Linked DNA regions of Homo sapiens: region 1 is linked to region 2. Evidence: fine-mapped expression QTL. A gene starts in region 2. The other region holds a variant in brackets. All regions are shown on one strand. Distances are between the middles of the regions. Region 1 holds the start of LOC107984507 (a long non-coding RNA gene). Region 2 holds the start of WNT5B (Wnt family member 5B).

Region 1 (12,548 bases), 97 kb after region 2:
TCAACAAATACTGGTGAAATCTATAACCTTAGGGAGGAGTCTATGACAGGCACTCAACTTTGCCCCAACCTCCCAGAGCAAGACAAGCCTCCTGTCATCTGGGGGATATTCACCGGTAAGAAAAATGGGTGCGGGGCCACTGGCCTCTTGCCCATGTCCATCCACTGGTTAAGTTCAGGAAGTGTCACCAGTGAAGGCACGACACCAGCAAGAGCCCAGGAGCTCAGGGCTGCTCTGTGGCTGCGCACCTTCGGTTCTGGGCTTGACCTCTTTAAGAGGAGCCACACTGAGAGCAGCAAACAGGATGACCACGAGCTGGCCTCAGAAAAGCTTTGTTACTTTAGATTTTTCATAACATTATATTTTTATGTTACAGTTTTTGCTTCCACAACAGGACTCAGAGCAAATCCAACAATTAATCATTTGCAGATAACTCTAAAGTGACTTTTGGGGGCTAAAGTGTGTAAACCAAGAACTTTTGAGTTCACTGCCTTTTCTAAGCCAAGGCCAGCTATCGTTTCCCAGGCCTCAGTAAATCCACTGTATAAATCAGACAGGAGTAACCTTTTAGGAGTTAGCATTTCTGGGGCTCTAGGAGGCTACAGAGGAGACTGTATACCCCTTTAAGAAAGGTTGGGGTGCCTCCCCCTAGAACTCAGGCACCAGCCCCAAAGTCACCCAAAGCTGGAGACAGAGGCTTGTCATAATCTCCCAGATGCCAGCGAACCACAGAGGCCCCTGGCAGGCCCAAGCCCAAAGCCAGGAGCACAACCTGAGCCTCCAGCTTGACCACAAACCCTGCCTCTGAGACCACGGCTGGTGAAACAGTAACTCTGTGAAAGCAGCAGGCCCAGAGCACCCCCCACCCCTCTGGTGGGGACACTCCAGGCCTGTCCACAGCAGAGGGATTCCCAAACCTGAAAGAGCTCGAGCTGTTCAGAGTGACAGGATGTTAGAGCTGGAAGGGGCCCCTGGGACCAACTAACCCAATGCTCTCACTTTATAGAAAAGACAAGCAAGGCTGGGCAAGGTGGCTCATGTCTATAATCCCAGCACTTTGGGAGGCTGAGGCAGGAGAATCACTTAAGCCCAGGAATTCAAGACCAGCCTGGGCAACATAGTGAAACCCAATTTATACAAAAAATTAAAAAAGAACAAAATTAGCCAGGCATGGTGGTGCACGGCTCCTACAATCCCAGCCACTGGGGAGACTGAGGTGAGAGGATCACTTGAGCCCAGGAGGTCGAGGCTGCAGTGAGCCATTATCATACCACTGCACTCTAGCCTGAGCAGCAGAGAAAGACCCTGTTAAAAAAAAAAAAAAAAAAAAAAAAAAGGAAAGAAAAGAAAATATTACTGAGATCCAGAGAGAAGCTACCGTGTGCACCCCAACCCACTCAAACACCCTCCCCAGCAAAACCTCAAGAAAAGACAGTGATGCAAAGGACAGGACATCCAGGTGGGTTGGTTTCTTAGGGGAGCTGGAGGTTTGGGGTGCCAAAGACCTTAGAGAATGCCCCTGTCCCTTTAAGGGCTGCACTGCTGCCAGCACCCTACGTGCTTACTCAAAGGGGATCCGACAGCCCGGCAGCCAGGCTGGGTAATGATTACAGTCAGCACAGCCCCCTGAGGACCTTAAATGACAGCTTGAGTCTAGGCTTCCTGTGATCTCCGTGCACAGTATCTGGAAGGGTTAGGGGAGAGCATCTTCCCCCAGTACCGAACCAGGTTCCAACTCACCCAGGAGGAAAGAGATGGGAAGAAAGCCACATGGGTGGAGAAGCAGCGGGGAGAGAGACCAACTTTAGAAAGCCTAGAAGAGGACTCATGCAGCACAAAGAGACCACACTGCAACCACAGGGGCGAAGAAGTCAGGAAATGCTGCCGCAGCAGCCAGCCCAGTGGCGAGACCGCAAGCCAGTGGCTCAAACTGGGATGGAGGGGGCGGAGGTTTAAATTTAGCCAGGTAAACAGAGCCGGGCCAGGGGTGGAGAGGGCCTGGTAGGGGCTGTGCAGTCACCTGCTCTCCAGAGTTGGGGCATTTCTCGCTGAAGGGAACAGTCCAGCCAGAACTGTACCAAACAGCGGATCCGTTTTCAGGGTTCCTCCAGCATGCTGCTTGGGGGAGCACACAGGCTGCGCCCCAGAGATGGACAGAAGGTTAGTTTTACTTTAAAGGGTGGCTCAGATTTAAAATGAGCATGTCTTTTCATCTTGATGGCAATATCGATGCACAATCCCTCTGCTGGATGTTTCTGGACTCGTAGATAACGGTGAAGACGCTCAACAGAAACCAGCCAAGGCTGCCCGTAAGTGGAGCTCCCACATGCTCTCATTGCCCAGAGGGCTTTTACATCTACTGCTGTTGTGTGTCTTCAGAGACCTGATGGAGTTACCCAACAACCAGTAACTACCACCACGACCACACACTCTGAGGACTGCATCCAGGACTAGCGCTGGAGCAAAGATGGGCTCTGAAGACCTGGTTAGAAGATGAAGGAGATAAATGGCAGGCGGTTTGAAAAGGAGCCAGAGAGAAAAAGCTCTCGCTGACACGAGAGCTTTTTTGGACTGACTGGTTTCTATTTCAGAGAAGACAAGGACTATCACCACACGTAAAAACTTCCCTCCATGCTAGAGAAGCCAGGCTGCGGCAATCCAGAAAGCAGCAGAACCATCCTAGAATTAAAAATTAGAACAGACCAGCCTAGTCCTCTGCCTTTCTTGACCTTGAAGAAGAGCAAACAAAAAATCTTTCAGCTGCCCCTAGAGTCAGAGGGTGAAATACACAAGGGAAGAAGAATTCCAGATTTTTTCTTTTCGCAGCATATGGCTCCCAGCAATTTTGGCAATATCCCTTTAACTTATGCTTTTTGGACAGAAAAAATTTTAGAAAAGGGTAGTTTCAAGTCAATAAGAAACCCCTGGTGATATTACAATCACCAAATGAACTAAAGAGGGGACCGGTTTCAGATACCTTGGAGAAACACACAGACACACACGCTCAATCACCTATTCATATTCAAATACATAAGATATCAGAGCCTGGGAAAGTATGAAATCCATGGGTGGAAAAAGACCAGCCAGCTCCTCCGAGCCTGGCTCCTGCTCCCCTGGCAGGCAGATCCCACAGAGTGTCACACGCCCTTGGCCTGACTGTCTTTAAGAAGAGAAAGAAAGGGAAGGGGAGATGTCTCTCCTGACTGCCTTTGGGTATTGACCCATCCATTGTCACTTTAGGTTCCTTTACTCCCTTCACGTCCTGCCCTGTTGTCCGCGCCACCTGCATCTGTTAGTAAAAAGCCCTGGTTTTAATTGTGACCCTTCCCTTGGACTGCTGGACTTGTCATCACCATGAAGACGCCAGCTCCATCACTCCTCTCACAAGGGTGCCTAAGAGGTCTCTTTCAGCACTGCCATCCTTCCAAGGAGACACACCTCCTCCTTCTTGCTATTTATAACCACGAATCTTGTGTGTCAAAGCGAGAACAGACACTATTTTGAGATGGAGGAAAACCACCCCTCAGTCTTCCACCTCTAATAGGTCGGTGTGTTTGCCAGGACCTGTGTGTGTGAGCCTAGGCAGGGGTGCGGCTGCAAGCTCCAGGTCTGGCATCCGCTCGTCTGTGCCTGAGATGGGGAGTCTTGCCTTTGCGTAAGTGAATTCTGCCGGTTAATCGGATGGCAGGAGAGGCTGGGTGCAGGAAAGGGTCCTTAGGCCTTCTGAGGGCGTGCCCGCTGCTGCCTGGGCTCTCCGTTGCCTTAGGGGCCAGCCACAGGAGGGGGCTCCCTAGGCTTCCCCCGTGTGCCTGGACGAGTGCTGGTGGCTGGCTAGCGGCTGCCCCTGCCCTGCCGAGCCAGGGTTTTCGGCTCCACACTGACGGCACGGGCACAGACGTCCCATCGCAGCTCTGGTGACTGGGCACATTCCGGGGCCCCTGGAGCAGTCTGGGGGGTTGATTCCACGATCCCTAGTTTTTCTCCTCCAGGTACCAGGCTGAACCTCTGCCCAGGGGAGTAGCAACTGGAAGCTGTTGCCAACGTGGCCAGGTGGCAAAAGCAGTGAAGAAGGGCCCGGGTGAAGTGGAGGGGACACCGGACACACACACACCCCTTCAGCTGAGTAACCAACGCAGGGCCGGGGCCACCTCAGTTTCCCTCCCTGTAAAACAGGGCCGGGCAGGCTCCCCGCAAACCGAACTGCCTCTCCCAGCGGTCTGCAGCAAATACCCGGGGGTTCGGCTCCGACTGGAGCGCGGGCTACGCGTCCACCGAGGCTCCAAGAAAGTGAAGGAGGAGGTCTCGTCCCGCCTCTCCCACGGCGGGGACGTGGAGCGCCGGAGCGACCGGAGAAGCACAAAGCCGAGCGGCGCTCGGGCTCTACCTGCGCGGTCCGGGCAGAAACGCAGGCTCCCACCCGCGTCCGGCGGGTAAAGTAACCCAGATGGGGTCCTCGATGCCGGCGCAGACCTCGGCGGAGGGTCGGGGCTGGGCCCGACCAGACCCGGGAGAGTGAGCGCGAAGCTCAGAGGCCGCCCCGCCTGCGCCGCCGACCCCGGAGCCTCCTATGCCTGCCCGCGCGAGGGCCCGGCGGTCCCCAGCTTTGTTCGCCGCCCCGGCCCGGGGCGACTCCCTTCCCCCGACCTGACCCCGGCCCGCCCCGACCCGACGCCCGCGGCGCGCAGACCCACCCGGCGGACACCCAGCGCGGCCGCGGGGCCGGGAAGGCGGAGGAGCCGCGCGAGGTTCGGCAGCCGGGGCGGCGGCGGCGGCGGCGGGGCCGTCCCCGGGGGCGAGGGCCGGCGCTTACCTGCATGTCCCGCCGCGTGTCAGGCCCGCGGGCTCCGGGCGCCGCTCGGCCCGGCCCGGCTCTTCCTGCGCCCGGCTGCGCTGGGTCGGCGGGCGAGGCGCGGCCCGCGGGGGCGCAGGGGGCGGCCGGCGGGGCCCGGGGCAGACCCTGCCCGCTCCTCTCAGCGCGCGGGCCGCTCGGGCCGCCGCCTCCGACTCTTCATCCGCGGCCGGGGCGCGGGGCTGGCGGCGCGGGCGGGCGTGCTCGGCTCCCGGGGTCCCGCCGAGGCGTCTCGGGCCCCCCCCCCGATGCTGGGGCAGCCTCCGAGGTGTCCACCGGAGCCCGGCCAGGCAGCCCCGGCGCTCGGAGTCTGCGCGCCCTCCTGCCGCCCGGAGGGCTCCCTGCTCCGCGCCGGGGACCCCCGAACTCAGCGGGCGGGGACGGTCGGGGGCGCGCAGCCTGCGGCCGATCCGGAGGGAGGCCCTGGGCCCGAGGCGCGGGCTCGGGAGGCCGCCGTCGATCTCGCCGGGCTGCGCGCCCTGCTCCGGAGCGCGGGACCCGGGGAAGTTTCGGCCCAAGTTGGCTGCGGGGCGGGTGGCGGCCGCGGCTCGGAGTGCAGGGCCCGGCGCTGGGCGAGTGGATCCTGGGGGCGCCGCCGCCTCCGCCCCGCCTCCCGCGCCTCCTCCCCGCCCCCGACAGCCGCGCCGGCCCCGGCTCGCTCCTGCCCACCAGCCGGGCCGCGACACCCTCCCGAGGGCTCCTCCCAGGCGCTGGGACCGCGACCTCCGCACCTGCCTCCCGCCCGGCTCCCTCGGCCCCTAAGCAGAGCGGCCCGGGGGCCTCGCCGCGGGGGTGCGGACGGGGAGTCTCCGCCGCCCGGCCCCCTTCTCCCGGCGCCGCACGCCTGCTGCCCCCTTCTCCTGGAACTCGACCCGATCCTCCGAAGAAACCGCGGCTCTTACCCCGGCCAGCAGCCCCCTCGGGGCGCCCAAGGAGCCCGTACCCGCGCCCCGCGATCCTGGCACGAGCGCCCACCTCGGCGTCTGCGGGGCCCGAGGCTCTGAGAGGGGAAGAGAGTTATGTCCTCCGCTTTCTTGCTACGCGTCCTCCTTTGAATCCCCCAAGGAAGTAGAGTGACCCGGGAACTACTTTGCCGCTTCGCAAACCCAGGTCATCCCCCTCGCAGTCCTGGGCCCTTCCCTACAGAGCCCAGCTCAGAAAGATCCCTGGGTTTGGGAAAAATGAGGCAGAAAGGTTTCAAGGAGCAAACGTGTTCTCTCAATACTTTCGTCATGGATATAGGACTAAATAATTCTCCTGATGTTTTATGGAGAAAATGAGGCACAGGAAAGTCTGACGACCAACCCATAGTCACTGCAGGGGCTAATAGCTTGAGAAGGTCACTAGAGTCCAGGGCTCGGCCTTAGTTCAGATCCAAGTTTAAA[T/C]GCTTTTCTGGAAGTCCCATGTCCTTTTGTAGGTAACCTCATAGCACCTCTGGGTGAGCTGCCCAAGAGGGTGTCCAAGGAGGTGAAGTGGGTGAGCTAAGGTCCCAGTGGAGGCAGGAGCTGCTGGTCCCTGCTCCAGACCCAGGTAACAGGGACCAACCGAGAGCAGCCAGTAGGATCCCAGGCCTGCCCTCCAGCCCCTTTGCTTTTACATTCTGAAAAACCCAGTCTCTTCCCTGAGGAGGAGGTCGCCCTGCTAAAGAAATTGCCTTCGAATGCAGTACAGTGAGGGGAGGGAAAATACAATAGTAATAATCAAAGGCTTTGCCTTTTTAAAATTAGTAACCAAACAAGGTGACAGCCTCCCCCTTTCAGTGGGGGAAGGGGCAGCAGGGAGGGTCAGGGAATGGATGGGACCAGGAACCCACCACACTGGGCAGGCAATAAGGAGCTATTGTCCTCTGGATTTTACAACAGGTAAGAGCTGTTGTAGCAAATACCCCACTAATTAGAGGGCAAGGTTTCCTTGGAACTGTGCTGGCTTGGGCCGGAGGTGCACCGTGACTTTTCTCACCTCAGGTGCACTGTGACTTTTCTCACCTCGGAGTGAATGAATGGGGTTTATGAGACCAGGTCCAGCAACCATAAATGCATGGCCTATAATTGTTGTGGGGAGCCTGCCTGCTGCTGGAGGGAAGCTAGTTCAAGGCTTTATCTTGGGGACAGATGATATGAGGAGAGTTGGCCTAAAGCAAGCAAAAAAGCTTTGAATCCGCTTTGCCAAATTTCAAGCAGGCTCAGTTTCTCTCTTCCTCAGAATAAAACATCAGTTCTAGTGTTAGGGTCTTTTTTTTTTTTTTTTTTTTTTGAGACAGAGTTTTGCTCTTGTTGACCAGGCCGGAGTGTGGTGGCACAATCTCGTCTCACTGCAACCTCCTTCTCCCGGGTTCAACTGATTCTCCTGCCTCAACCTCCCAAGCAGCTGGGATTACAGGTGTGCGCCACCGTAGTAGAGACGGGGTTTCACCATGTTGGCCAGGCTGATCTCGAACTCCTGACCTCAAGCGATTCACCTGCCTCGGCCTCCCAAAGTGCTGGGATTACAGGCGTGAGCCACTGTGCCCGGCCATGGAGTTAGGGTCTTCGTGGGAGGTCGGGGGGAAGTCTTGTTCCCCAGACCCTGATTACTCCAGAATGCAACATGGGAGAAACTGAAGATTCGCTTCATTTGTTGAGCCCTAAACACCCAGAGATGAATGAGACCAGTTCCCACCTTCAGGAAGTTTACAGTCTGAAGAATGAGGTGTGGAGAGGCCGACCTCTAATTTGAAGCCTAGAAGAAGCAACAAGGGATGACTTTGCTTGGCCCTGAGCTGACAGTCTAGGATGAGAGCAAGTGACAGACGACAGCAACCCCAGCTGAATGCTCTGTAAGTCCCCTACCCCCACCATCTCTGTCCAAGATGAGTCAAAACTTGTGGCACAGGGAGGGAAGCTGCAGTGCCCCCGGGAAAGGAGCTTGTGGCTGAGTAGCTGGGAAAACGTTTGAATGAGGAGACAGCAGAGACGTGGGCCAGATTCCCCAAGGGAAGTGGTAAGCACCCCATAGCTTGAGTCACTGGACTGCTGGGGCAGCTACCTCCAGCTCTGAAGGCAGGCACTGATGGGAATGCAGACAAATCTCACCCATGTTTTGTCTGTGACTGTTGGGTGGGGTCTCTTGCCTTCTCTGCCAAACAAGGCATATTCCAATTTGGCATTTGTGATTAAAAAGAAAGGACACAAGAAAGTAAGGAAGGAAATAGAAGAAAAAAAGAGAAAAGAAAGAATATTTGGCCCTATGCAAATATGTAATGATCACTGCTCTTTTTATTGAGGACACTGCTCCCCACTCCTGGTCATGCCCTCGCAGGCCCCCATCCACACTCAGAGGTCCCTTCCCAGCCAGAAAGTCTAACGAAAACCCTATCAGAACTAGTCAGAGAGGAGGCTGAGACTCCTGCGTGGCTGGGATCTCAGTGGCTTTCCTGCCAGGTGCATGTGGGGCTGAGTGCTGGTCCTCAGGCATGCTCTTCGGTGGACTGCTCCGTTTCACCACCCCCAGTGCCAGGGGGAGGAGCTTCAGAACACTGCTGTCCAGCCGCCTCTGGGTGCAGGAAGAAAGTACCCCTGTTGCAGGGCAACCCTCTACTCCATCCCAGTCTGCTTCTCTGGCACCTTTCAAAGGTGTTCTTTAAGATGCACAGAAGGCCTGGCGCGGTGGCTCACGCCTGCGATCCCAGCACTTTGGGAGGCCGAGGCGGGCGGATCATGAGGTCAGGAGATTGAGACCATCCTGCCTAACACGGTGAAACCCCGTCTCTAGTAAAAAGTATAAAAAATTAGCCGGGCGTGGTGGAGGGCACCTGTAGTCCCAGCTACTCGGGAGGCTGAGGCGGGAAAATGGTGTGAACCCGAGAGGCGGAGGTTGCAGTGAGCCGAGATCGGGCCACTGCACTCCAGCCTGGGCGACAGAGCCAGACTCCGTCTCAAAAAAAAAAAAAAAAAAAAGGACGCACAGAAAATTTCTTGGGGGAACTGATGAGCCTTCAAAGCCCAGAACAAGAGCGAGAGGCAGAGCTAATAATAACCTTTTATCCCGACAGCTATTTCACAGGCACTTGACCCCATTGCCTGTGGTACTGTGTTGTTCAGTGCTCAGTTTCTGCTCGTTGTCTGGACGTAACATAGAAGTCACGGTTTTGCTAAGAAAGAGGGCTTTTTAAAAACTGGCAGAATCTGACCCAAATATCCAGACACTATCCATAGATTACCGCCACAGACTCACAATAGCCAAGACAATTTGGGACAGCTGGATCGGGGGATTTCTAAGTGCTGAAGGCAGCAGGGTTGGTAAGAAGGAAGCTGCTATCATGAGTTCTAATCTGGCTCTGCAGTGGACCTGTAGAGGAAAAAGTTCATACCAGGATGTCAGCAGCATAAAGGAATTTTTATAAAAGCAGAAGACCGTTCTTAATACCTCATATGTGCATAGAGCTTACCAGTTTATAAACTGCTTTTCTTTTTTTTTTTTTTTTTTTTTTTTGAGACAGAGTCTTACTCTGTCACCCAGGCTGGAGTGCCGTGGCATGATCATGGCTGACTGCAGCCTCAACCTCCCATGCTCAAGCGATCCTCCCACCTCAGCCTCCTGAGTAGCTGGGACTACAGGCACATGCCACCATAGCTGGCTAATGTTCATATTTTTTGTAGAGACAGGGTTTTGCTATGTTTCCCAGGCTGGTCTCAAACCCCTGAGCTCAAGCGATTCTCTCACTTCGACCTCCCAAAGTGCTGGGATTACAGGTGTGCACCACTGTGAGTGGCTGATATGGTTTGGCTGTGTCCCAACCAAATTTCGTCTTGAATTCGCACGTGTTGTGGGAGGGACCCGGTGGGAGGTAATTAAATCATGGGGCAGGTCTTTCCGGTGCTGTTCTCCTGATAGTAAGTCCCATGAGATCTGATGGTTATTATAAGGGGAAGTTTTTCGGCACAAGCTCTCTTTTTGCCTGCTGCCAACCACGAAATATGTGACTTTGCTCCTCTGTGCCTTCTGCCATGACAGTGAGGCCTCCCTAGCCATGTGGAAGCGTAAGTCCAATTAAACCTCTTTCTTTTGTAAATTGCCCAGGCTCAGGTATGTCTTTATCAGCAGTGTGAAAACGGACAAATACAGTGGCCCTCTAGTTTTATCTTAATGAAGATTCATCAGAATGATGACAGCCTTACTCATCTCACTTGGAAGGCTCTCCTCTAGCCACCTCTCCCCAAAAGAGAAGTTAGTGCCCCTCCAGGGAGAAGACAGCATGGTTGCTGAGCAGGGCGCCAGGTCAGTCCTCAGAGGTGAACTTCAGACTCAACACCTGTGTGATCTTGAGCAAGACACTCATCTCTCTAAGCCTCGGTTTTCTCATCTAAAAGGTAGCAGTGGTAAGATCACCTATCTATGGCAATGTGAGAAGTCGAAGAACACACATAAAGAATCCAAGTACTGGCTGGGCATGGTGGTTCACGCCTGTAATCCCAGCACTTTGGGAGGCTGAGGCGGGCAGATCACTTGACCTCAGGAGTTCCAGAACAACCTAGGCAACATGGCAAAACCCTGACTCTACAAAAAACACAAAAATTAGGTGGGTGTTTTGGTGTGCACCTGTAGTCCCAGCTGCTCAGGAGGGTGAGGCAAGCGGATTACTTGAGCTCGGGAGGTCGAGGCTGCAGCGAGCCGTGATTATACACCACTGCACTCCAGCAGCCTGGGCGATAGAGTGAGACCCTGTCTAAAACAGACAGAAAAAAGGAATCCAGTACTATTTATTACACGTAGTATATGTTCAATCAGTATTAATAATTGCATTATTATGATTGAATAGACGTGACCTCATTTTCTGTTGTCCACTCTAATGGGATGCTCTATCCTTGAACTCCTCCCAAGAGAAGACAGAATCCTAAATTGTCCCTTTAATGAATTACTGCTTTACTAATACCTAGAATGAAGCAGTTGAAGGTGTCACTAAAAACTGGCAAAATCTGGAGACTCTAGCCAATTGCAATGGGAAGAGTTTCATCATTTCATCAGTACCACTCGTCAAGGTCCCATAAAGAGAAAATGGGGGCCGGGTGCGGTGGCTCACGCCTGTAATCCCAGCACTTTGAGAAACTGAGGTGGGAGGATTGCTTGAGGCCAGGAGTTCGAGACCAGCCTGGGCAACAAAGTGAGACCCCCCCCCCCCATCTCTTAAAAACAAGCAAACAAACAAAAGAATGGCGAGCAAATGGGAAAAACTAATGAATGTGATCCTGTTAATGAACTACTCAAATGCTTGACCAAAAAACAAGGCACTCTTTGGAATTATGATTGACAAGAAATACCATTTTCCCTTTGGAGACTCTAACATCCCCATATGCCTCCTTTTTCCCTCATCTCAACTTTGACTGAAGCCCTTTAATGCTTTCTATACTGAGGGACATTTCAGAGGAAACGGAGACAGGGTGCCTGCCCTCAAGGAGCTTTGTTCTTATAGTGGGGCCAGGACACAAGCAAATGGAAATGAAATGAACATCAGATGCCCAGGCCACATGCGTCTGGTGCCAGAGCCCCTGGCGGCTCAAGGCCATCAGGACTAAGGGTGGTGGCCGAGCTTCTCCTTCCCTCTCTCTTACTAAGGAGCTGGTTTCCCCTGGGGAAGGTCACTCCCCTTCTTGGATCCTCACCTGTAAAAAGCATGGGTCTAAATACTCCCCAAGAGTAAACAAAGCTATGATGGAGTCAAAGGGGAAATGGAGAAAGATGGAGGTTTGAGAGGAAGACAGTGAATCTGACTCCAAGACACTTACTTTTAAGGTCAAGGGGGCATTCAAGTGTTGACGGCAAGAAACAGGGAATGTAAGGAGCGTTAGAGGTCAGGGTGGCTGGAGGTGCAGTTTCAAAAAGTGAACTGATAAATACGAAGGCCAGAGGGCAAGGCGAGAGAGATGGCGGAGTGAGCAACCTGTGTAGACAGGGCCCACAAGTTTAGGAAGAGGAGAGCGCAGACTGGAGGGTGCAGCAGGGAGCCCTCGGGTCGAGTGATGTGTGCTCCACAATAAGAGAGCCACAGTAAGACACGCACAAAGGCAGAGAGAGGCAAAGCCAGGAGCATTGGCCGTTCCTGTTGGTAGAGGGGGCTGGGAGCAAGGAAGAGAGGGCGGCAGGAACTCAGCAGGGGGCTGGCATTCCAGAGCGAGAGCAGCCCCTTCTTCCTTCCTCTCCAGAGACTGTTAGGACGACAGAAAATGCAGATACCGAAGGAGAGGCCAGCCAGGAAAGGGAGAAAGGATGGCCACAAGCTCCCACAAGGACACTAAAGTGGCCTCTCCAGCTGTCAGGGGAGGCTGACCCCTCCCACGTGGCTGCCCAGGGTGGGAGGCACACCTGTGCCAGGTGACCAGAGGGTGTCTCAAAGTTGTTCACTCACAGACAGCTCCTGGAGGGGCTTCCTAGTGCAGTGAGGGTTGAGTCCCTGGTTTATCGGAATCTCCTGGGAAAGAATGTTTAAAGTCCAGTTTCCAAGGCTGTGCCTCTGGTCTGTGACTTCTAAGGCTCCACAGGTCATTCTGATCCTGAACTCAGCCAGGGATCCCAAAGGCCCAGCGTCCAGTGAGCTTTCGGGAGGAGAGAGGCTTGCTGACAGGTACAGGGTAGCCCAGAAGAGCCGTGGCACCCCCTGCCCCAGGCCCAGGAAACACATCACTTAAGTTCCCTGGGACCGCATTGCAGTGGAGGGCGGCAGAGG
Region 2 (12,288 bases):
AGAATGGGGGTCAGGCAGATAAGAAGACGAGGGGTGGGGAGCAGCTCTTCATTTTAATAGAGGGCAAAAAGAGCCAAACCTCAACAGGAGAGCACAGGCCTCATTCAATGAGTAGGAGTGACTAGTTCAGTGCAGCCCAAGTACATGATAAGCCATGGAAAGCAATCAATCCTTTGCGTGGTACTCCCTTTGGGCCTTTAAAATCCAATCACTTTACATACATCACGATCTAGTCTACTTGTTTTCACTGCCATGTCTCACTTTGAGCTTCCCCTCATCCACTCTCCACCAGTTCAGAGGCTCTCCCTTTTGCTCATCATCTACCAGCCATATAGAGTGTTAGATGAGAAGGCTGCAGATTTGCTATCTGAGTAAAAATGCTAGTGGCAGAGACCATGCAAAATAGGTGGTGATCGCCTGCCATTTCCCTGTCAACTTGGCAATGACAACAGCCCTTAAAACATAAGAAGAAAGCCAGCCACCCATGGTGCTGTGAACCCCTCATCTGGCCTTCAGACTTATAAAAGAGGAATTCTATATCCTACCAGCAAAACACACAAAACAAAGGAACAAAAAACTACCAAGTATTGATATTCTTGTTGACCCAAGAGCAATTTCTAACAATTCATGGGCATGAGGGAAGGTCCAAGGAAAAGGAATGTGGACAGGATTAGAGAAAAAAATCAAATGAACGGAACCTTTATCCTCAGGGAACCCTTACAAAGATAAGGGTTGAGAGAGACACAGAGCGTTCTTAGTTTTCCTGGGATAAAAGAGGCCCTTAGTACTCCCAGGAATCAAGGTACTACCGTGACACACGGTGCCCTTCCTCCTCATCTCAGTCGCTGAAGGAGGCCTCCGGCTGTGCAGGCAGGACCTCAGCCCCTCTTACTCACCACCAGGAGTTGGCGTCTGTCAGAAGCTGAGCCCAGCTGGACAGCAGAGCAGCCGTGAACAGCAGCAGCAGGCTGGGCATGGTCGGCCTCAGCCCTCCCCAGTGCCCTGGGACTGACAGTTTCCAGAGTAGGGTTCCCTGGAGAAAACAGAAATGGAGAGTCAGTGTGGAAACTCAGCGGATAAGGGCAGACCAGGAGCCGGGGTGAGGCGGAGAAAGTTGCACTGATGCTTACGTGCTGCGTGTTCCCCACAAAGAAGCTCGGCCTCTTTCCAGCCTCCGCCTCCCACTGCTCATCTTCCCACCCTAGGACTTCTGTCTCTTACCCCAAACTGTGGGAACCCTGCACAGGACCTAATTTCCAAAGAAATAATGAGCTGAGAAACCACAAAGAGAAATGAAAACAAGTAATTTCAAGAGCGGAGCTTGCGGCGTTCCTCCGTTCGGCAGCCGGGAGGCCACTTCGGCTGTTGTAAAGCATACCTGTCCTTGCTGCAGAACATCCAAAGAAATGGGGCCCATCCTATCCACTCCCCCACGTGCCTACCTCTCATTCCAGCCCAGAGACTTATTTCTCTGACCCTCAGGCTCTCCTTTGTAGGATTAAAACATTTTGGTGAATTGGATTTACCTGCACCCAGGGAGGAGTCTCCCCTCTCCATCTGCGCCCTTCTCACCCTCAGCGGGTTTCCTAAGTCCCAACCCCTGCGTACAGATCAAGGACTTTTCACTTTCTCAAGGCAGCTTCTCTGAGAAATGTACAAGCCACGCCGCGAACCGCCCGCCCGGAAAGCTCTGGCGGCTGAGGTGGTGCCTCCCTAGGCGGCCCCTGCCCCTCCCGGCACCGTGGTCCTCGAGGGCGGCACCGAGTACCTTGCCCAGCAGCTGCACCGGGGACACTGCCGACGCCAGGCGGCAGCTCTGGCATCAAATGCCTGAGCTGAGGACGCATCTTCCAGATGCCACAGCCCTTCCCTGCTGGCTCCCGGGCCTCCCGCCTCTTGGCCTCCTGCCTGCTGTAACCCACGCCTGTTCCTCTATCCGCCCCCGAGAGCCCCTGTCCCCAGGCCCTGGGACCCGCAGCAGGTCAGTGCTGCTAGAGCGAGCCTGCGCCTCGGGACACACGGCCCCTGCGGCTCCCCCGCGGTCCTCCGGGGCCCCCGTCTGGGCGTGACCCGCGCCCCCAGCGGCCTCCCCGGGGCCCCGGACCTGACGAGCGCAGCCCCGCGCGCCCCGGCTCACTGCGCCACTCTCGCGCGTCGGCGTCCCCAGGCTCCCCGGGAGGGGGCGGCGGGTGCTTCGGGTCATCAGCCCGGGAAGTATTTTTGTCCTGGGGCCGCCAGGAGAGGACAGTGGCCCGAGCAGGGTCCAGGAGAGCTGGGACACAGCCCTTCCCCAAGCCCCCTTTTGATTTTCCTTCTCGAAGCCTCGGCTGGGGCGGGGGCACCAACAGGCAGGTGTGTGGGGCCGGCAGGGGGCAGATCAAAGAAGACACTTGCTCCTTCCCCTTTGTCATGCAGAGCCAGCTCGGAAGTGAGCCGGCCCCCAGCCCGGGACTAACAGCTTCCACGCCCGACTCCCCTCAGACCCCCCCTCCTCTGGAGGATGCCCCTCCCCCTCTCCTCTCCCCCCATAAATCCTCCTCGTCCCCCGGGGCAGAAGGTCTGTGAATGCACCGGCTGGAACCACGAGAGATGGAGCAGAGATAGGGCTGGCACCAGGAGCTAATGGTTTTATGGAGGGGAGGCGACCAGGTCCCGAGTAGGGAGGACGAGAGAAAAGCTTCAAAGCGTTTCCTTGTCCAAATATCCTTAACTCCACCTACCAGTCCTTCCCGGGGTTGCAGAGCTAGGGCCGCCCGTGCCCTCCTGCTTCTCCAGCCTCCTCCCCGCGGCCCCGAAGCCTCCTGCCCAGCCTATGCCCAGCCCGTGCCCAGCCCACCACCCTGCCGCCCGCAACACCTACTCTCCCTGGGGACTTTGATCCTCACACATTTCCACCACCAGATAGCGGAGTTCTTCCTCCCCGCCTGTGACACTTGTCCCTCACACCAGTGCCTCTCACCTCTGTCACCCGTCCATCAGGCTCCAGTGGAATCTCTCTGGTCCTGCAGTTCCTAGGTTCAAACTAGGCTACATTGGGGGCCACCGTTTCCGAGCCAAAGACAGGCCTGGGTGCCTGCTAATGGTCACTGTGGCTGTGACTGCCCCCAGGACAGGCTGACACGGTAACTAGAGCCAGACTTCCCAGGAGCTGCTAATCCCGCCCTCAGTGCCTTATAAACATATATGGAGACAAGAATCACTCCCGCAGCTGTTTCTACTCCATCCCCCGCCCCGGGCTTTCCACGAGGCGGCTCTCAGCCCATTAAAAATGTTTTTTTTTTTAAAAATTGCCCCCCAAAATGGCTCTAACATGTGCAGTGGCTTCTTTCTCTGACTTCCAGATGTGTGGTACCTGAAACTGAACTCCCCCATACACACATATGCACGCGCGCGTGCACACACACACACACAACACACACACCAGCCCCCTCAGGACGCTCTCTGTCCTGGCAGACAGATGCGAGCCAATTCTTGAGTGGCCATAGAACTGAAGCCAGGCAGCTGTTTGCCCTCTCTTACATTCTTGTGCTGGGGTGGGCTGGGGTGGGAGGAGAAAGGACCCCTTAGAAAGGTAAATGCTGGCGACTGGTTTCATCAGCATGGGCAGAATGGAAATTTCTTGCCTCAACCCGACTGGGAAGGCAGGAAGCTGTATGGGGGCTGACGGTTTTGTGTTAATGAGCAGGTCACATTGGGACCCCTGTTTGTGGGTCACTAGTGAGATTTATAGCAGGATTCAACCAGGGGAGGCTCTCCTTGTGTAGGAAGAAAGATCTGGTAAATGCCCAACAGGCAGGAAAAGGCCTTTGCAATAACTACAGATTTCCCCAGGGTCTAAAAAGATTCCCCTTCCTAAGAGGCAAGTGTCAATTCAAACATACCAAACACAGTAGTTAAGAATGCGGGGCTCTTCGGGGGGCCAAGGTGGGCAGATCACCTGAGGTCAGGAGTTCGAGACCAGCCCGGCCAACATGGTGAAAGCTCACCTGTAATAAAAAAGTATAAAAATTAGCCAGATGTGGTGGCACATGCCTGCAGTCGCAGCTACTTGGGAGGCTGAGGCAGGAGAATCGCTTGAACCTGGGAGGTGGAGGTTGCAGTGAGCCAAGATAGCACAACTGCACTCCAGCCGGGTGACAGAGCAAGACTCCATCTCAAAAAAAAAAAAAAGTGGGAGTCAGGGTCTCTATTCTTTAGTAGTAGTGACTAGGAGGCTGTGGGGAGGGAAAGATGCAAAATTCCCAATCAGGATCCTTCCAGAAGCCAGAATGAGCTGGTCAGACATCTGCTCTGTTCCTCCTCTTCATTCATCCATGCAGCCATTCAATACATTCATTAATCAAATGAATTACACCCTGGGTGCCTAATATGTGCCAGTTACTGCTCTAAGTGCCAGAGACATGGCAGTGAACAAACAAATGTATCATAAGTTAGGTCCAGTGAATACTATGAGGAAAATAAAGAGGGGACCAGAATCAAGAATGGGAAGGGGTGGTAGCATACTTGATGTAGGGTTCTTGGGAAGACTACTCTCTGAAATATCTGTGCCCCCAAAACCACTGTGTAGGCAGGATGGTGGGAGGGGATGTAACGATGCTACACCTCCAAGACCCCCTCTAGAGCACATCCAAGGTCCCTGCTGAGATGGCACTGTCCCACTTCACCATCACAACCAAAGAGGTGCGTGTTGGAAGACAGGAACTCCAAGATCTCCTCCTTTTTCTGCTAGGACTCAGTCACTCACTTTCATTTCCTTAAGGGGCCATGTCCATCCAGCCTAGAGTTAAGAGACCAAAAAGAGAGACCGGGACAGGTAAAGCTGAGACCCCAAGCAACTCTGTGCTTTCCACCATACTTCAGAGCAGTGCCTGAAACAACATCTCTGCCCCACAGGATGAGGGGTTGATTTCAGGTCATTAGCCATTCACACAAACCCACTGATATCTAGAACTGACTTCCCCAGCACCCAGGGACTCAAGCATCTCAAGACTCCTGCAGGAAATGGAGCCACCTCCCACATCTGCCCCTCTCCTCAGACAGGCACCGTCACATCCAGAAACCTGTCCAGAAATAGCCACGAGCCTAGGTGGGGACCTCTTCAAGGGTGCTGAGCAGGCCTCCTTTGTCACTGAGGCCACACCTTCCAAGATGCCTTCCCTGACCATCCCTCCCAGAGAAGGCCCCCATCGCCATTATTCTACTTCTAGCTTCTTGCATGTTTTAGCCGCAGCATTTAATGTGCCATGGAATAGTGTGGCGTGCTCATCTGTTGTGGTTTTGTTTCTTTCCCTCATATGCTCTGGAAACGGTCTTATTTACCATTTTTCTCCCCAGTGGATAGGATAGTACACAGGGGTATGTGGGAGTTGCTAGAAAAATATTTGTTGACTGAAAGAAAAGAAAAGCACTCTTACTTGGTCACCCAGTGGGGAGCTATAGAATGTGTAATTTAAAAATACATTTGGCGGCCGGGCGCAGTGGCTCACAACTGTAACCCCAGCACTTTGGGAGGCCGAGGCGGGCAGATCATGAGGTCAGGAGATCGAGACCATCCTGGCTAACACGGTGAAACCCCGTCTCTACTGAAAATACAAAAAAATTAGCCCAGTGTGGTGGCGGGCGCCTGTAGTCCCAGCTACTCAGGAGGCTGAGGCAGGAGAATGGCGTGAACCTGGGAGGCGGAGCGTGCAGTGGGTCAAGATCGTGCCACTGCACTCCAGCCTGGGCGATAGAGTGAGACTCCGTCTGAAAAAAAAAAAAATACACTTGGCCTGGAGTAGTGGCTCACGCCTGTAATCCCAGCACTTTGCGAGGCCGAGGCAGGTGGATTACCCGAGGTCAGGAGTTCGAGACCAGCCTGATCAACATGGAGAAACCCTGTCTCTACTAAAAATACAAAATTAGCCAGGCACGGTGGCACATACCTGTAATCCCAGCTACTCGGGAGGCTGAGGCAGGAGAATTGCTTGAACTCGGGAGGTGGAGGTTGCAGTGAGCTGAGACTGCGCCATTGCACTCCAGCCTGGGCAACAAGAGTGAAACTCTGTCTCAAAAAAAAAAAAATACACTTGTGGCCAGGTGCAGTAGCTCACACCTATAATCCCAGCACTTTGAGAGGCTGAGGTGGGAGGCTTGCTTGAGCCCAGGAGTTCAAGACCAGCCTAGGCAACACAGTGAGACCCTGTCTCTACAAAAAAATCTAAAGTTAGCCGAGCATGGTGGTGCCTGGGAGGCTGAGGCCAGAGGATCGCTTGAGCCCAGGAGTTCAAGGCTGTAGTGAGTCGTGATTGTGCTATTGCACTTCAGCGTGGGTGACAGATTGAGACCCTGCCTCAAAAAAAAAAAAAAAAAGAGAGAGAAAAAAAACAGGCAGGGTGCGGTGGCTCATGCCTGTAATCCTAGCGCTTCGGGAGGCTGAGGCAGGTGGATCACTTGAGGTCAGGAGTTTGAGACCAGCCTGGCCAACATGGCAACACCTATCTCTACTAAAAATACAAAAATTAGCTGGGCGTGGTGATGGGTGCCTGTAATTCCAGATACTTGGGAGGCTGAGGCAGGAGAATCGCTTGAACCTGGGAAGTGGAGCTTGCAGTGAGCCGAGATTGCACCACTGCACTCCAGCCTGTGTGACAAAGTGAGACTCCGTCTCAAAAAAAAGAGAAAAAACAAAAGAATAAAAGTACATTTGCAATTTTGTTAACATTCCTGGCATAACAGGGTAAACCATCTTAGCAGTCTTTGGAAAGGAAATGCTTCCCTTTGTGAACTCCTGGCTGCATTGCTGTTGAAGGAGGGGCCTCAGACTGGATGATTTCCATGGGACAGGGGAGGGGCAGGTGGAGGAGGAGCAGGCCTTGCTAGCTGGAGTCCTGTGGCTTCTCTCCCTTTGGCCACTCATTTCTCGTACTGTAGAGAAAGACTGTTTATGGACCTCAGCACAATAGACAAATACCTCCTAAAATGTACATCAGGTTCACTCATTTCCTTCCCAATTTCCAGGTGAGTACTCACCCTTCTGGCATCTGAACACCAGAGTAGTTCTTCGTGGTCTCACTCACAAGTGCACATAGACACAATACCAGTTTTCCCTAAAATACTAATTTTACATCATAATATTCCCCTATTTGAAAACGTATAGTGGTTCCCAGTTCTTTATTTCCAATGTGGCCTCATCTTACCTCTCATTGTTTTCCTGAATTTCCCAACATGAAGTCTCCTTTTCCAATGTCCTTCTACTCCTAGAACAAACCCCACTTTTCCCCCAAGACCTCATTCTGATCCTCTTCCCAAGGAAGCATTCTCCTCTGCTCTGCAGCAATCCAGATATTAAACTACTTTCACATCCAGGCTCAAGATTCACTCCCTCCATAAAACTGTGCTTGATTAACCCCACCCCATGAGAATCTCATTCTCATGGGTTGAGACCGAAGAGGTCTCAACCTCTTCGGCCCTTATGAATCCATGTATCTGGTCTGCACCTCCCTACCCCACTTATGCTGCCTTGGGCTGTTTCTCAGGTGAAGTATATACTTCTTACTTCTCTAGTAGATCAAATGCTTCCTAAAGGTTCAAACTTACCTTTTCTACTTTCTCTGCGAGCCCCTTTGCGCCCAGTATGGTTTTACTCAGCAGTAACAAATGTCTTTTGATTGATAACCAGTGACAATAGCTAGTATTAATCAACATTTATTGAGCACCTCTTAGTGCACTGCACTAAATGTTTCACATCTATTTTTCTCATTTAATCTCTGCCAACATTTGTGGCATATGCCATTATTATTCTCACTTTGAAAACAGGGAAACTAAAATTAAGTACTTGTTCATACAGCAATTGAATGGTTGACCCTGGCTTGGAATCCAGATCTTTCTACTCTTCCCCAAATACAGGTCCTCCCTGTCACTAGAGCATAACACCTTCTCTGCTTTCTCTTTTTTTTTTTTTTTTTTTTTTTTGAGACAGAGTCTCACTTTGTTGCCTAGGCAAGTGGCATGATCTCAGCTCACTGCAACCTCCGCCTCCCGATTCAAGTGATGCTTGTGCCTCAGCCTCCCGAGTAGCTGGGATTACAGGTGCCTGCCACCACGACCGGCTAATTTTTGCATTTTTAGTAGAGATGGGTTTCATCATGTTGGCCAGGCTGGTCTTGAACTCCTGACCTCAGGTGATCCACCTGCCTCGGCCTCCCAAAGTGCTGGGATTACAGGCGTGAGCCGCGGTACCCAGCCTCTTTCTTTTCTTCGTTGCACCATTGCCCTGTTACTACGGCTGCGAATAGTGTGAAAGTCAGAAAACAACATTCTGATATGCAGGAGATATCACAAAAAGCAAGGTTTACAAAACATGCAAAGTTACTAGTATTAATACACACACTTAGATACACACACAGCCTTGTGGGCGGAAAGAACTAGACTTCTCCCCTAGCCAAAATGATATGTGGGTTGAGAACAGGCCAGGCTGCTTAAAGCTGGAGGAATTAAAACATAATAGTTTTAAAGAGTTGGTACTTAGTTTTACTTTGGGATGGAAAAGACAAACCAGGTCAAGAGCTATGGGTCTGGAAGGGTGGATCCTGGTTTGGTGTGAGGGGCTCATGGAAGATGCAGAGGTGAGGTACAGAGTGCACGTGAAGAAACATAAGGTTTGGAGAGAACGTGGAGGGACATTTTAGATTGGCCTTAACAGTGAAACTCACCAAGAAACTATGTCCTCAGCAAGAAAGGCTCTTACTTCGATAGCACAAAACTGTCTTGCCTTTCAGTAGATATAGCGATCGAGGAGCTCTGTTCAAAGCTTAGATTTGACCATGTGACTTCTTTGCTTAAAACCCTTCAAAGAGGCCGGGCGCGGTGGCTCAAGCCTGTAATCCCAGCACTTTGGGAGGCCGAGGCGGGCGGATCACGAGGTCAGGAGATGGAGACCATCCTGGCTAACACGGTGAAACCTCATCTCTACTAAAAATACAAAAAATTAGCTGGGTGTGGTGGTGGGCGCCTGTAGTCCCAGCTACTCGGGAGGCTGAGGCAGGAGAATGGTGTGAACCTGGGAGACGGAGCTTGTAGTGAGCCGAGACTGTGCCACTGCAGTCCGGCCTGGGCTAAAGAGCGAGACTCCGTCTCAAAAAAAAAAAAAAAAAAAAAAAAAACAACAAAAAACCCTTCAAAGGTTTCCTATCTCCTAAAGGATGAGTCATAACTCCTCACCCCATTACATGACGCCTTCCAGAATCTGGCCCCGCCAACCTTTCCATCCTCTTTAGGATTTCATGCTGTGCTTTAGAACCCCAAACTCCTGATACCTCCTTACCCAAACCCATCCTGTTTCTCCCCGCTGTGCCTTGCCGACTTCTGGGAATGGTTTCTCCTCTCTCTGTGCAGAGCAAGCTCCTTTGTCATTGAGGCCACACCTTCCAAGAGGCCTTCTCTAACCATCTCTGCCAAAGAAGGCCCCCAGCAGCATCATTCTATTTCTAGCTTCTCACATGTTTTAGCCACAGCATTTAATGTGACATGGAATAGTGTGGCATGCTCATCTGTTGTGCTTTTGTTTCTGTCCCTCATATGCTCTGGAAACGGTCTTATTTACCATTTTCTCCCCAGTGGATAGGATAGTACACAGGGGTATGTGGGAGTTGCTAGAAAAATATTTGTTGACTGAAAGAAAAGAAAAGCCCTCCTCTGGCTCTCAGGGAAAGAGGAAGCAGGCCACGAAGGCCAGCCTCTCATGAAGACAAGGAGAGTCCCTTCGACTTCCATACAACTTGGTCCATTTGCTGTGAGGAAGCTGCTTGACTGTACCTCCCCTTATCTGAGAATCCACTGCTAATTGAGATTTTGGAGATTCCTGGTCCCAGACATAACTCTCTGTCTTTTCCTCAAAGACATAAGTAACATTCAGCTTCTAAGAGTAAAGGCTGGCACTGCTTAATAAGATAATGTAAAAATGTGTAAGACCTTGGGGAGTGCCCCAAGGTGCATTGGTCTAGCTGGGGAAAACAGAAAACCTGCCCAGAAAAGTACACTATAAGAAGTGTCATCTACTAAAAATACAAAAAATTAGCCGGGCGTGGTGGCGGGCGCCTGTAGTCCCAGCGACTCAGGAGGCTGAAGCAGGAGAATGGCGTGAACCCGGGAAGCGGAGCTTGCAGTGAGCCGAGATCACGCCACTGCACTCCAGCCTGGGCGACAGAGCGAGACTCCGTCTCAAAAAAAAAAAAAAAAAAAAAGAAGTGTCAGAAGAGCCTAAGGGAGCAGCTGTACTCAGGATGTGGGATTTGAGTAGGGCCTTGAAGAATATGAGGGCTTTTAACAGGAGGAAAACAGCAGAAAGGATTTCACATGAAGATGTGGTTTGGTCAAAGAGAAAATTTCAAGGTGCTTTTCGAAGAAGAGGAGAGATAGTGCAATGAAGGAGGACTTCAATAATTTCCACTGTTTTCAGAATTGCTTGTTCGTGAAATTTATGTAGTCCCTCCAAAATCTAATATGGGGCCAGGCATGGTGGCTCACATCTGTAATCCCAGCACTTTGGGAGGCCGGGATGGGAGGATCACTCGAGGCCAGGAGTTTGAGACCAGCCTGGCCGACATAGTGAGGCCTCATCTCTACCAAAAAAAAAAAAAAAAATAGCTGGATATGGTGGCACATGTCTGTAATCCTAGCTACTTAGGAGGCTGAAGCGGGAGGATCACAGGAGGTCAAGGCTGCAGTGAGCTATGATTGTACCACTGCACTCCAGCCTGGATGACAGAGGTCTCTAAAAATAATAAATGTTAAATTAACTTTTTAAAAAATCTGATTTGGTATTCCCATTGATAATTCAGCATCAATTACCCAGGAAAACTCCCATCATGACATGCTTCCAGTTTCTGGGGGCAACACTGCAGGAATGGGGTCAAAGACATAGGGGACCAGTCACCCTGGATACTGTCCTTTTGATCATAAAATGTGGGTTGAGTGAATCTTCCTAGAGAGCCAAATATAGAAGTTAAAATGCTGATTGATTACACACCTTCATATCAATCATGCGTGTTCTCTGTCTTCCAATTCTCTTCCTGTATCCAGGCCTGAAATCTTGGTATCCTTTGTGACTCCTCCCTCTTCTTTGCCTTCCACGTCAAATCAATTGCCAAGGTCTCTTGATTGTATCTCTATAGTGTTTTTTGAATATATTCCCTACTCAACATTCCTATTGTCATACTATGAGCTACTACAAGAGCCTGCTAATTGACCTCTTTTTCTCTAACAAATTGCAATATCTTATGTCCCATTCTTATCTCTTGAAAGGATAAATGAATTTCCCCATGGCAGTTCTCTAACTTTCAAAATAACAGGGTGGGGCGCGGTGGCTCACACCTGTAATGCCAGCACTTTGGGAGGCTGAGGCGGGCAGATTACGAGGTCAAGAGATCAAGACTATCCTGGCCAACATGGTGAAACCTGTCTCTACCAATAATAGAAAAATTAGCCAGGGGTGGTGGCGCATGCCTGTAGTCCCAGCTACTTGGGAGGCTGAGGCAGGAGAATCGCTTGAACCCGGGAGGTGGAGGTTGCAGTGAGCCAAGGTCGTGCCATTGCACCCCAGCCTGGCCACAGAGCGAGACTCCGTCTAAAAAAAAAAAAAAAAAATTTGCTGGGTGTGGTGGCGGGTGCCTGTAGTCCCAGCTACTTGGGAGCCTGAGGCAGGAGAATCACTTGAACCCAAGAGGCGGAGGTTGCAGTAAGCCAAGGTCGCGCCATTGCACTCCAGCCTGTGTGACAAACTGAGACTCCATGTCAAAAAAAAAAAACAACAACAAAAGAATAGCAGCACTCTTGATAGCCTCAGACCAGAAGCAACAATATCCATCAACAATAGAATGGACAAAACAATTAACTGTGATATATTACAACAAAGAATTATTATGCAGGAAGGAAAACAAACTACAAGTTACATGCAACCACATGCATGGATCTTCTGAACATAATATTGAGAAGAAGCAAGTCACAAGAAAGTATATGAACTATGGTTCCATTCATAGCAAAACTATCTTGTTTGGGGACCCACACATTGGTGGTTAAGCCATAAAGAAAAGCAAGCAAGGAAATGATGACATCAGGGAGTGGTTTCCAAGGGAGGGGGCTGTGATGAGGAAGGGGCTCGAGGAAGTTCCTGGGATACCAGCAATGTTCTATTTTCCAACCTGGTGATGGATATGTGGCAGTTCACACTACAGCAGTTTATTAAGTTGTGCATGTATTATGCTGTATGCAATTTTCTGCATTATATTAGACAACAAAAATATTTAAAAA

Evidence for each region. PIP is the estimated chance that this variant, and not a neighbour inherited with it, causes the effect.
Region 1: its variant is fine-mapped to the expression of WNT5B in aorta (GTEx, PIP above 0.99). The same link has a PIP of 0.9 or more in tibial artery.

What each region holds. Positions count from the first base shown.
Region 1 is chr12:1,523,213-1,535,760 of GRCh38, reverse strand. It overlaps LOC107984507 (a long non-coding RNA gene), which reads left to right and starts at 3,569. Exons shown (of 2, transcript NR_160736.1): 1 at 3,569-3,655; 2 at 3,990-8,038. RefSeq lists enhancers at 1,704-1,853, 2,004-2,203 and silencers at 5,217-5,326, 5,417-5,666. The variant T/C (reference allele first, on the strand shown) is at 6,235.
Region 2 is chr12:1,620,043-1,632,330 of GRCh38, reverse strand. WNT5B (Wnt family member 5B) reads right to left here and starts at 3,100. Exons shown (of 5, transcript NM_032642.3): 1 at 2,960-3,100; 2 at 897-1,033. The coding sequence starts at 976. RefSeq lists an enhancer at 1,373-1,472 and silencers at 1,654-1,948, 1,903-1,962, 1,993-2,182.